2 linked regions of the Homo sapiens genome follow. The protein of the gene in region 1 purifies or fractionates together with the protein of each later gene. This does not show direct contact. Each region holds a gene or a part of one and is shown in the gene's direction. Other genes may lie near its edges.

Evidence for each region. The genes of interacting proteins can lie anywhere in the genome.
Region 2: the proteins of NIN (region 1) and BICD1 purify together in Homo sapiens (co-immunoprecipitation; one study listed by IntAct). This does not show direct contact.

Annotation. Positions count from the first base shown.
Region 1 is NC_000014.9:50,718,751-50,723,834, reverse strand, and holds the end of NIN (ninein), read left to right. Parts: intron 1-162; coding exon 163-372; 3' UTR 373-4,072; downstream 4,073-5,084. UniProt on the Homo sapiens protein: Centrosomal protein required in the positioning and anchorage of the microtubule minus-end in epithelial cells. May also act as a centrosome maturation factor.
Region 2 is NC_000012.12:32,333,067-32,337,750, forward strand, and holds part of BICD1 (protein bicaudal D homolog 1), read left to right. Parts: intron 1-1,449; coding exon 1,450-1,601; intron 1,602-4,432; coding exon 4,433-4,684. UniProt on the Homo sapiens protein: Regulates coat complex coatomer protein I (COPI)-independent Golgi-endoplasmic reticulum transport by recruiting the dynein-dynactin motor complex.

The DNA of each region.
Region 1 (5,084 bases):
TGATGCCAAGTCTGATGTTAAAGCTATTTTGTAAAATAAAAGAATATAATTAGACGAAGTGATTTGCCTTTATAAAACAACTGTCCTTATGTCAGACCTTAAACTGAAGGTTTAAGAAGAGTTACAGAAATGGAGTCAAGATGTTTCTGGTTCTGTTTCTAGCTCTGCAAGAACACTAAGGCAGACGCAATGGTGAAGGACTTGTATGTTGAAAATGCCCAGTTGTTGAAAGCTCTGGAAGTGACTGAACAGCGACAGAAAACAGCAGAGAAGAAAAATTACCTCCTGGAGGAGAAGATTGCCAGCCTCAGTAATATAGTTAGGAATCTGACACCAGCGCCATTGACTTCTACACCTCCTTTGAGGTCATAGCCAAACCAAAGGGTACACTCATATTTGTGCACTTTACTGAAATAGATGAACATTTCAGTAGGTTCTCAACTTAAAATTAAGCCTAACCTAAAACTGCCAGCAACACAACTGGAGTTTCCATTTATCATAATTAGTTTTTCTAAATAGACCCTTATGGGAGTTTGAAAATAAATACTCACATATTTCACTACTTAAATTATTCCCAAGATTTGAATTTATTTTAAAATTTTAATAGCCACCAAGAATGTGGACATATGAAAATTCAAGAACCTAAAAAATACCAGTTTTGAATGAGTTTTTGTGGTTTTGGTTTTTTTTTTAATTATTACAAATCTATGTGTAAAATCTAGATATTTGAAGTTTGAGATCTGATGAGAATGGTTGTTATAAACTTTATTTTAAAACCAAATTTAGGTGTTCTTACATATTTAAATACTGGAAAGTCATTATAATAGTTTTGGTTCTTTGAATTGGTAGACAATTAGTAGAGTATAATTGGTTAGGAGGCAGGGCTTATTAAGTGGTTATTAACCGCTGACATCAGACAAACCCAAATCTGTAGAATTCTAACCTTCTAACACCTGTGACAGTATTACCACTCTTCTTGTATTATAGATTTAGAACTGATTTACTCAATTGCACTCTTAACTAATGTTAAAAGCTTACTTGCTTTAAACAGCCTTTTCTTCTTTCTCTTAAAAGTTTCATTTGGGGAGCTGGTCTTCTAAGAAACGGATAAAGCCACATAATTAAAGCAGTTGAACTATAGGGAAAGCACTGAACAAACCACTTTGGAGTAAATAGCTACTCTTAGAAAAGAGGGATAAGCAGACCATGTAGGTTTTCTGTCTCTCAAATCTTAGAGTTCATAAATTTACTTGAGGTTGCCTCAAGAACTCAGGGAACAATACTGTAAACTGTCTTCCTGAACTACTGTAGGGCCTCTCTAAGAATTTGAAATGTATAAACCATGTGACCTCATTTATTTGTCTTATATATTTACAGCCATACTAGAATTTTTATTTCTACGTTTTTAGTAAATTTAATATTCTGGGGGAAAAAAGGCCTTGATTTTAGGGTTAAAAACCTGACTTATAGAAGAGTTTATTTAATATAGGTCAAAATTTTCTGTGTTTCTTATTCCTTCTATACCTCAAATCTGATTCTAAGAATTTCTTACTGTGATAATCATTGGCATGCCACCTGAGGTCAAGGAGTGCCAAATAGGACTTTCCACTCATGCTCAAGATCAAAACTTTATAGAACAGTCAACATTTTAGATTCGGTAACCTTTTTTTTCTTCCAATTATAATCTCTGCTAGCCACTTCCGCCAGCAGTTGGTGGAAGACTTACTAGGTGCAGGGCACTTTCCAAGTTCATCACAACAACCTGCTTGTTTTCATGAGACAATAATCCGAAAAGTTCGCTTTGATATATTCCTGGAGGGCCAAGCCCATCTATTTACAAAAGGTGAACAGCAAAATCAAGCACTGCTTTATGGGCAGGAACACAAGAGAAAGCAAACTGCCCAAGAAGTCATCATGTCAGAAACTCAATCTCAACAAAATAATTTCCATCAGGGAACTTCAGGGTTTCTTGGGGGCTTATGAGTCTCACCGGTCAACCCAGGAGGCCTCACTACAAGAGCCTTGACAAGGCACTGTTTTTTGTGGGACTGGGAGTTCACACTGATGAAGCAAACCTTTGAATTTTTGCACAGCTCTTGTCAGAAAGCCCTGAGTTCCCCCTGGATAAAGAGTTAATTTTAATCCTTCCCTATAATTATACTTCAAAATATTTGACATCTGCTATTATGCCTTCTTTAGATCTTTCTTCTGTGGTGCAGACATTTCTAGTAAGTGTTTGACTACTTGTATGGCATTAGCTTTCACAGAAAATTGTTTCACTTAAAACTGTGGATTGGCCTAGGCTAAGGACAAAAATAAACTAAGTACCTGTAGTGTATTTATGTGATATGTGTCAAGTTACTCAAAGTTATTGCTGTTGGAACTGAACAATAATATTTCCCAGATAGCTGGCCTTAGCATGTGATCACGGTTGTTGTATTTTTAATTTTTGTCTTTTACAGTATGAGAGGTGTAGGTTAATTTGTTTATTTCCTATAAATTTGTATTTATGTGTATATAAAATGTACAATGAATGTAAATATGACTTTCTGGAAAGTTTAGACTACATTTAGAATCTCTATTCAAAATCAAAATGCTGCTCAAATGAATTTAACCAACATCTAGGTGCTTAATTTCTCATTTTATCCCACTTATGAGATTGGGAAAAAGATCAATATGAGAAATACCATACAGATACCTTAAATGTATGCATTTGTGCAACAATTTTTGAGAAGGTGAGTGGCAATTTATAATTTAGTTGGCAATTTATAATAGAACTTATAGCTTTTAAAAGACCTTTTAAAGACATTAAATGTAAACTTAAAAATGTTTAGATCTTGTTTCAAACTTTACAATAGCATTCTTCAAAATATTAAGTTATATATTTTATAGGCATTTAGTTGCTTATTAAAAGCACTGATTTTCAAACTTTTTGATTTAAGAACAATTATTTAAGATCGTCTCAGAAGATGGGATCTTCGTTTCAAGAAAAGGGAATCAAGTTTGCCTTTGAGATAATACGTTACACTAAGAAAAGGAAAATGTGGATAGTAAAACCCACCTCTCTCATCCTATTGTACTCTCTTCTGCTTTTTAGAAGCCTGCACTTAAGCTTAGATTTGTGAAGGGAGAGTAGAAGGGGAGAAGTAGAACCACAGTGTTTTATTTATTTTTCTAAAACTCTTACTAAATCCAGATTTTTTAAACTGTTTTAAATGTGAATTCTTCCCAGAAATTTCAATGCATTGCATATTTAGCCTTCGGCATATTTTTCATGAATAGATCATGAAGTCATAGGCTTCCAAGGCATAGGAAGAGATCTTGCAGGTCTAGTATTTTAATAATGCACTATTACCCAGGGCAGATATTATGAGAAACTGTTTCTTCTCTAAGGGTTTATGGCAGACTTTGCTTTTTTAACATGTGAGAAATGAATTTTTTATTTTGTGATTTATGTGATTTCTTTTGCTGAGTGAAGGAAAGGAGAAATTGTTGCTATTGTCAGCATCTTAAAGGTATTTCCAGTCAAGGCAAGGCTAAGTGCTTTGTGATAGTATTAAGCAAGTCATGTTTTGAATGGATTACCTGTAGTGACTCATTGGAATGATATAATTATACAAGTAATGCCAAAAACCAAGTCAAAGCCTAATTAACCAAAGCACTCATTTAAAAATCATCATGTTTGGACCTATCTGGACCTCTCAGCACTGTAAAATAGTTTTGGTTTTGTGGCATATGAATAGCTGTTTAACAAATCAAAGTTAGCTTTTTGCTTCTCAGCTTTTTTGGGCAATACAAGTTAAGTTCTTAATGGGGAGACATTATCATGGCATGACTTAAGGGAACATTGGTTTGTGAAGGAAAAACAGATTATCTAAAGCCATCTCTATGTTTCTGTTCAGATAAAGATTAATGAGTTCTGTGTTTATATCAGCTTTGTATATTTCATCTTAGCCATTCTATCCTAGAAAGATTTTAATGTGAGCTTAAGATGTAAATAAATAATTTTGCAAACATGCCTTTTGTTTTCTATATACCCTGACCTTTTAATAAAGTTTCAGTGTATTTATCATTGGTCTTTAGAATGGTAGCATCAAAATATTTCACTAAACACATTCTACAAATGCAGAATCTCAGCCCGCACTCCAGACCTACTAAATCAGAATCTTCATTTTAAAGAGATTCCCCAAGTGATTTGTATAGGATTTAGAGCATTGGGACTCCATTTCTATTATAGAAGGATGACTTTTACACCAGCCAGTTTGGGGTCCCCGTATACTGTGGCAGTGCATAGTTTACCTGCAGAATCATGACTTAACCTTGGGCAAGGCCCTGTTTGTGATTTTGGGTGCTTCAAAGATGGCTTTATTTCATGTTGCCATCTTTAGGGGTGGCTCAGACTTTCTTAATTGAGCAGCTCATGAATGATGAGATATATGCAGTTGGAAACACAAAAACAACCTAAAACCATGTTAATATGCTGAACACTGAAATGTAGAATTGGAAATGTTGGCCAAACTGACCCATCTCACAAGCCTGTTTTATTTCATTTCAAAGCTTTTATACCAACCTCATACTGCCTTTATGTGGCAGGAACTACCATTATTCCCATTTTATGGATGAGAAAATGGAAGCTTAGCAAACTCAAGGCCACACTGCCAGCTAGGTCGGGAACTTGGGACTAGAGGCTCAGGTTTGTCCTGTGTTGCAACACTTCTATCAGTTCCTACTTCTGGCAGAACTATCAGTGTTGGTTCAATGGCAACCATGTACACTGCACTCTGAAGAAAGTACTGTGTAAAACATTCCTGCCATCTGTTTGTGGTGGAGTGGTAAGATTTACACAGAAAAGAAGATTAGAAAATCTACATCCATACAGAAGATAATCAAATGTTGATGGACTCTGTGCTATGAGCACCAAAATAAGATTAGTGTCAAATGGGTAAGGTCCTTAACCTAGCATTCAATATAATTCTGCACTTCATTGAGATTTGTGCAGCCTGTGTGTTTTGTAGTCTTATTTACTGTGCAAAATTATAAGAAGTAATTTTCTAACATGTACTTGATGTCCATTTTCCCCATAA
Region 2 (4,684 bases), on another chromosome or scaffold:
ATCTAGCTCTTCTGTTATCCCCCATTTTATTCCCCTTAGATACTGACCATGGGATTCTATGTGCTTACAAATTTGTTACATCTACATTTCACAACTTAAACATACTTTTCTGTTTTAAATGAATATGTGTCTAAGCTTTTTAAACACTAAACAACTGCCGTTTTTCCCCAGGTCAATTTCTGCCTTGTGGATAATTTTCTGAATCTGTAATATTTCTGAAGATTCCTCCAAGTATTTACAGAACATACAGAAGTATTTTATGAGTAAAGTCTCATTTTAATCTGAATTTAAATCCAATCAAAACTCACAAGAAACTACTTCGGAATCAAAACAGTAACAAAGTACCCTATCCCAACATTGATTTAATTAAGAAAGAATTTATTTCTATAGATGTTGGCACTTTGCATATGAAGGTTTGAAGCTGCCCATTTCAAGCAACAAAAAGAAATGTTAAAAACCAAGGTAGTCTTCCTGGGAAATCCCGTTAGTAATGGATTTCTCTGCTAGTAATGGGGTTGTTCATTAGTATGGGGTATTTGTATACACTTTGAAAAGTTATAGTTTCCAGTTTGTAAAAATCATGTGTTCCCAGTTTGGCTTCAACATGCAAACTGTGTGCTATGCATCAAACAGGCAATCCCTAAGTATACACTGATTTTATGCATTGATTCAGTCAGTGTGTTTTTTTACTTGTGTGTGTGCCAGGGTAGCTCTTGATTTGAAACACTATTAATTCCAAGAACTTCGGACATGCCCAAATCCCAGATTCAAACAAATGTTTTAACTCATTCAACATTTTATAACCCCTACTTTTATGGAGATTTTGAAGGAATTATATTTCACTATATTTCATTGTTTGGACAAATTGTATGCAAATTAGAAAGTAATTAGTTCTTTATCACTTCTTTTCCTTAAATGTATGATAACATGGATTTATAGTTTATCATATACTCATATTATAAATTACAATGGTGTATGTCTTTTATTCTATGTTTTGGGCCCACAGAGCACAGGTGACAAAATTTGAGTTCTAACATATTCCAATTTGATTATTCCTATTGAAGCTGTGCTTCTTTACTAAATAATTGGTAAAAAAATTTTTTTTGTATAAAGTTTCATTTTGGCTCCCTCCTTGTCCTAAAATCGCATACTTTCAGCAATCTGCATTAAATATTTATTAAACTACTGTCATTCTCTTAGCTCCTGATACTGACTCTGGCTCGCAGCGGGCTTCTAGGGCAATTTAACCACATTATGAATTCACAACACATTTTGACATTAAAGAAAAACTTCCCTGTGTCCAAAGCGCATACCTATGTTTATATAAAATGTAACCAAATCAATTTCACTTTCCTTTTATAAAAGAACATAATAGGCACAGCATGAAGCAATCTGTATGATGGATTTTCCTGATATGAAAATTGTAAGCAGTGTGATTTTCTGCTTTAGACAGCTGAGGTGGCGCTAGCTAATCTCAAGAACAAATATGAAAATGAAAAAGCAATGGTGACTGAAACCATGACGAAGCTTAGAAATGAACTGAAGGCTTTGAAAGAAGATGCTGCAACCTTCTCATCCCTGAGAGCAATGTTTGCAACAAGGTAACAGTATTTTCTTCCTATGACTGGGTGTGGTAGGTGGGGTAAAGGCTTTAAAATTCACAGCCCTGCCTTTGTGCATGTTGAGTGTATTCGGTGAGTAGTCTAGGATGGCTAAGTGTGAAGAAAATCTGTGGAAGTCCACTCTGACGTATCTAAAAGCAAGCCTTCTGTGCTGTTTTCCAGAGCCCCCTACTGAACACTCTGGATCCAGAAATTCTATTACATAAAAATATTTTTTAAGTAAGCTAATATTAATAGGTTGTTTCTAGAATTTATGCACCCCAAAGAGAGTCTCCCTCCAAATAAAAAGCTTTCAATAAGGAAAAAAACCCCACTTCCTAGAATAGCTAAATATTATCACCTCTGAAATAGAGTTCTGTGAAGGAAGTACATGAAAGTATATAAAAGTGCCTTACCTTTAGTACTGTGCGAGAAGATACTGTCATAATGAAGATTAATAATCATCACATCAGCTAATTACTTATAATTTTTTTTTTTTTTGAGACGGAGTCTTACTCTGTTGCCCAGGCTAGAGGGCAGTGGTGCGATCTCAGCTCACTGCAACCTCCGCCTCCCGGGTTCTAGCGATTCTCCTGCCTCACCCTCCCGAGTAGCTGGGAATACAGGCACCTGCCACCACGCCCGGCTAATTTTTTGTACTTTTAGCAGAGACGGGGTTTCACCCTGTTAGCCAGGATGGTCTCGATTTCCTGACCTCATGATCTGCCCGCCTCGGCCTCCCAAAGTGCTGGGATTACAGGCGTGAGCCACCGCGCCCGGCTGTATTTTGTGTTTAAACATGAAGTGATTGTTAAGAATGTATTTGATTTGAAGTTTTCAGAATCTTGAGATTTTCAATATACTGTTGAAATACATTTTTTGCTGTCACAATGCAGTGTCAAAAAAGACCTACTTTTTTTTTTTTTTTTTTGAGATAGGGTCTCACTCTGTCACCCAGGCTGAAGTGCAGTGGCGCTATCTCGGTTCACTGCAGCCTGGACATCCTGGACTCAAGCAATCCTCCCACGTCACCTCAGCCTCCCGAGTACCTAGGACTGCAGGCTTGCACTACCACACCCGCTAATTTTTGTGGTTTTTGTGGAGGCAGGGTCTCGCCATGTTGCCCAGGCTGGTCTCAAACTCCTGGGCTCAAGAGATCCGCCCACCTCGGCCTCCAAAAGTCCTGAGATACGGGTATGAGCCACCATGCCCGACCAAATCCTACCAATTGTGTATCTTGTATGATGCAAACTTGGTGCAAAATTCACGAATAATTACTATGGCTTTACTTGCAGATTTAGTAAATAATTTACATTTGGCTGATACATGTAAAAGTGTTAAAAACAAACAAAAAAAGATCTCTTGAGCTTTATAGGAGTCCCCCAGAAACTGAGATCACACCACTGTACTCCAGCCTGGGTGACAGAGCGAGACTCCGTCTCAAAAATAATAATAATTTTTTATAAAAAGGAATTGTTATCCCCAAATTGTCTATTTTCACAGACTTTTTTTTGGCATGAACAGTATTTGTTATTCATATTTTAGCGGGTAAATAAACTCAGAAAAAAAACAAAACAAAATTCAGAATGAGCTTTTTCTCCACGCCACCTCTACCTTCCAAATGTATATGTGCCAGGTTTTGCCTTTGGTAAGGAAAAAAGATCACTAAGCTTATCTTTCTTCTTCGGCACAAGTATGAAACCTGAATAAAGATGTTTCGGACAGCCTGCTGTATCTGTATGAAACCTTGTGAAATCTTGGTTTTTGCAGGGTTTTCTGTTTTTTGTTTTTTGACAACTCATTGCTCTGTCATCTGGTTGAGAAATCATTGAAAATACTCAGTTTTCTAATTCAGGCAAATCAGTCAAATTGACAAGACCAACAGCTGCAATCTATACTAAACTAAAACGTATAAATATAGATAAGGAAATGTTTTCTTTATAAACATTATTATTTTGGATACTATAGGCATAGCCTATAATAAACTTGTTACATTCCTCCAAAGAATACAATGTCATACAGTAAAAAGAGCTACTGTAAGACACTTCAGGTATAGTGGACATTGTGTGAGACTTGACTGTTATTCGTCTGTTACACAGCAGCCCCACGATAACTCTGTCCCTGGGGTTTAAGACATTGCCTATTAAGACTGTCTCCATATGGGCTGGGTGCAGTGGCTGATACCTGTAATCGCAGCACTTTGGGAGACTGAGGCAAGAAGATCACTTGAGGCCAGGAGTTCGAGACCAGTCTGGGCAACACAGTGAGACCCTGTCTCTTTAAAAAATAATAATGACTGGGCGTGGTGGCTCATGCCAGTAATCCCAGCACTTTGAGAGGCCAAGGTGGGAGGATCACTTGAGGTCTGGAGTTCAAGACCAGCCTGGCCAACATGGTGAAACCCCGTCTCTACTAAAAAAAATACAAAAATTAGCTTGGCATGGTGGCACACTCCTGTAATTCCAGCAACTCGGCAGGCTGAGGCATGAGAATCGCTTGAACCTGGGAGGCAGAGGTTACAGTGAGCCAAGATCACGCCACTGCACTCCAGCCTGGGCGATACAGCGAGACTCAGTCTCAAAAAACAAATAAACAAAACAACAACAACAAAATAATAATAAATTTTTTAAAAATGTCCCATATATCTCATTGTATGGATGAACATATATTCCAGTTTTCTGCTATTGTGGGTTATCTACATTCTATTGCTAGACCTTTAAACCAGTCTTCTAAATTTCTAAATTTCGGTCAAATTTATTACTTTTCAGCTTAACTCCCAAATTCAGTTTCACCAAGATTTTCCTCTGACCACTTCTCTGTTTTGGTTCCAGATGTGATGAATATGTCACCCAGTTGGATGAGATGCAGAGACAGTTAGCAGCTGCAGAGGATGAGAAGAAGACTCTGAACACTTTGTTACGAATGGCTATCCAGCAAAAACTCGCCCTGACCCAGAGGCTGGAGGACTTAGAGTTTGACCATGAGCAGTCCCGACGCAGCAAAGGCAAACTTGGAAAGAGCAAGATCGGCAGCCCTAAAGTAAGTGGGGAGGCATCAGTCACCGTGCCCACCATAGACACTTA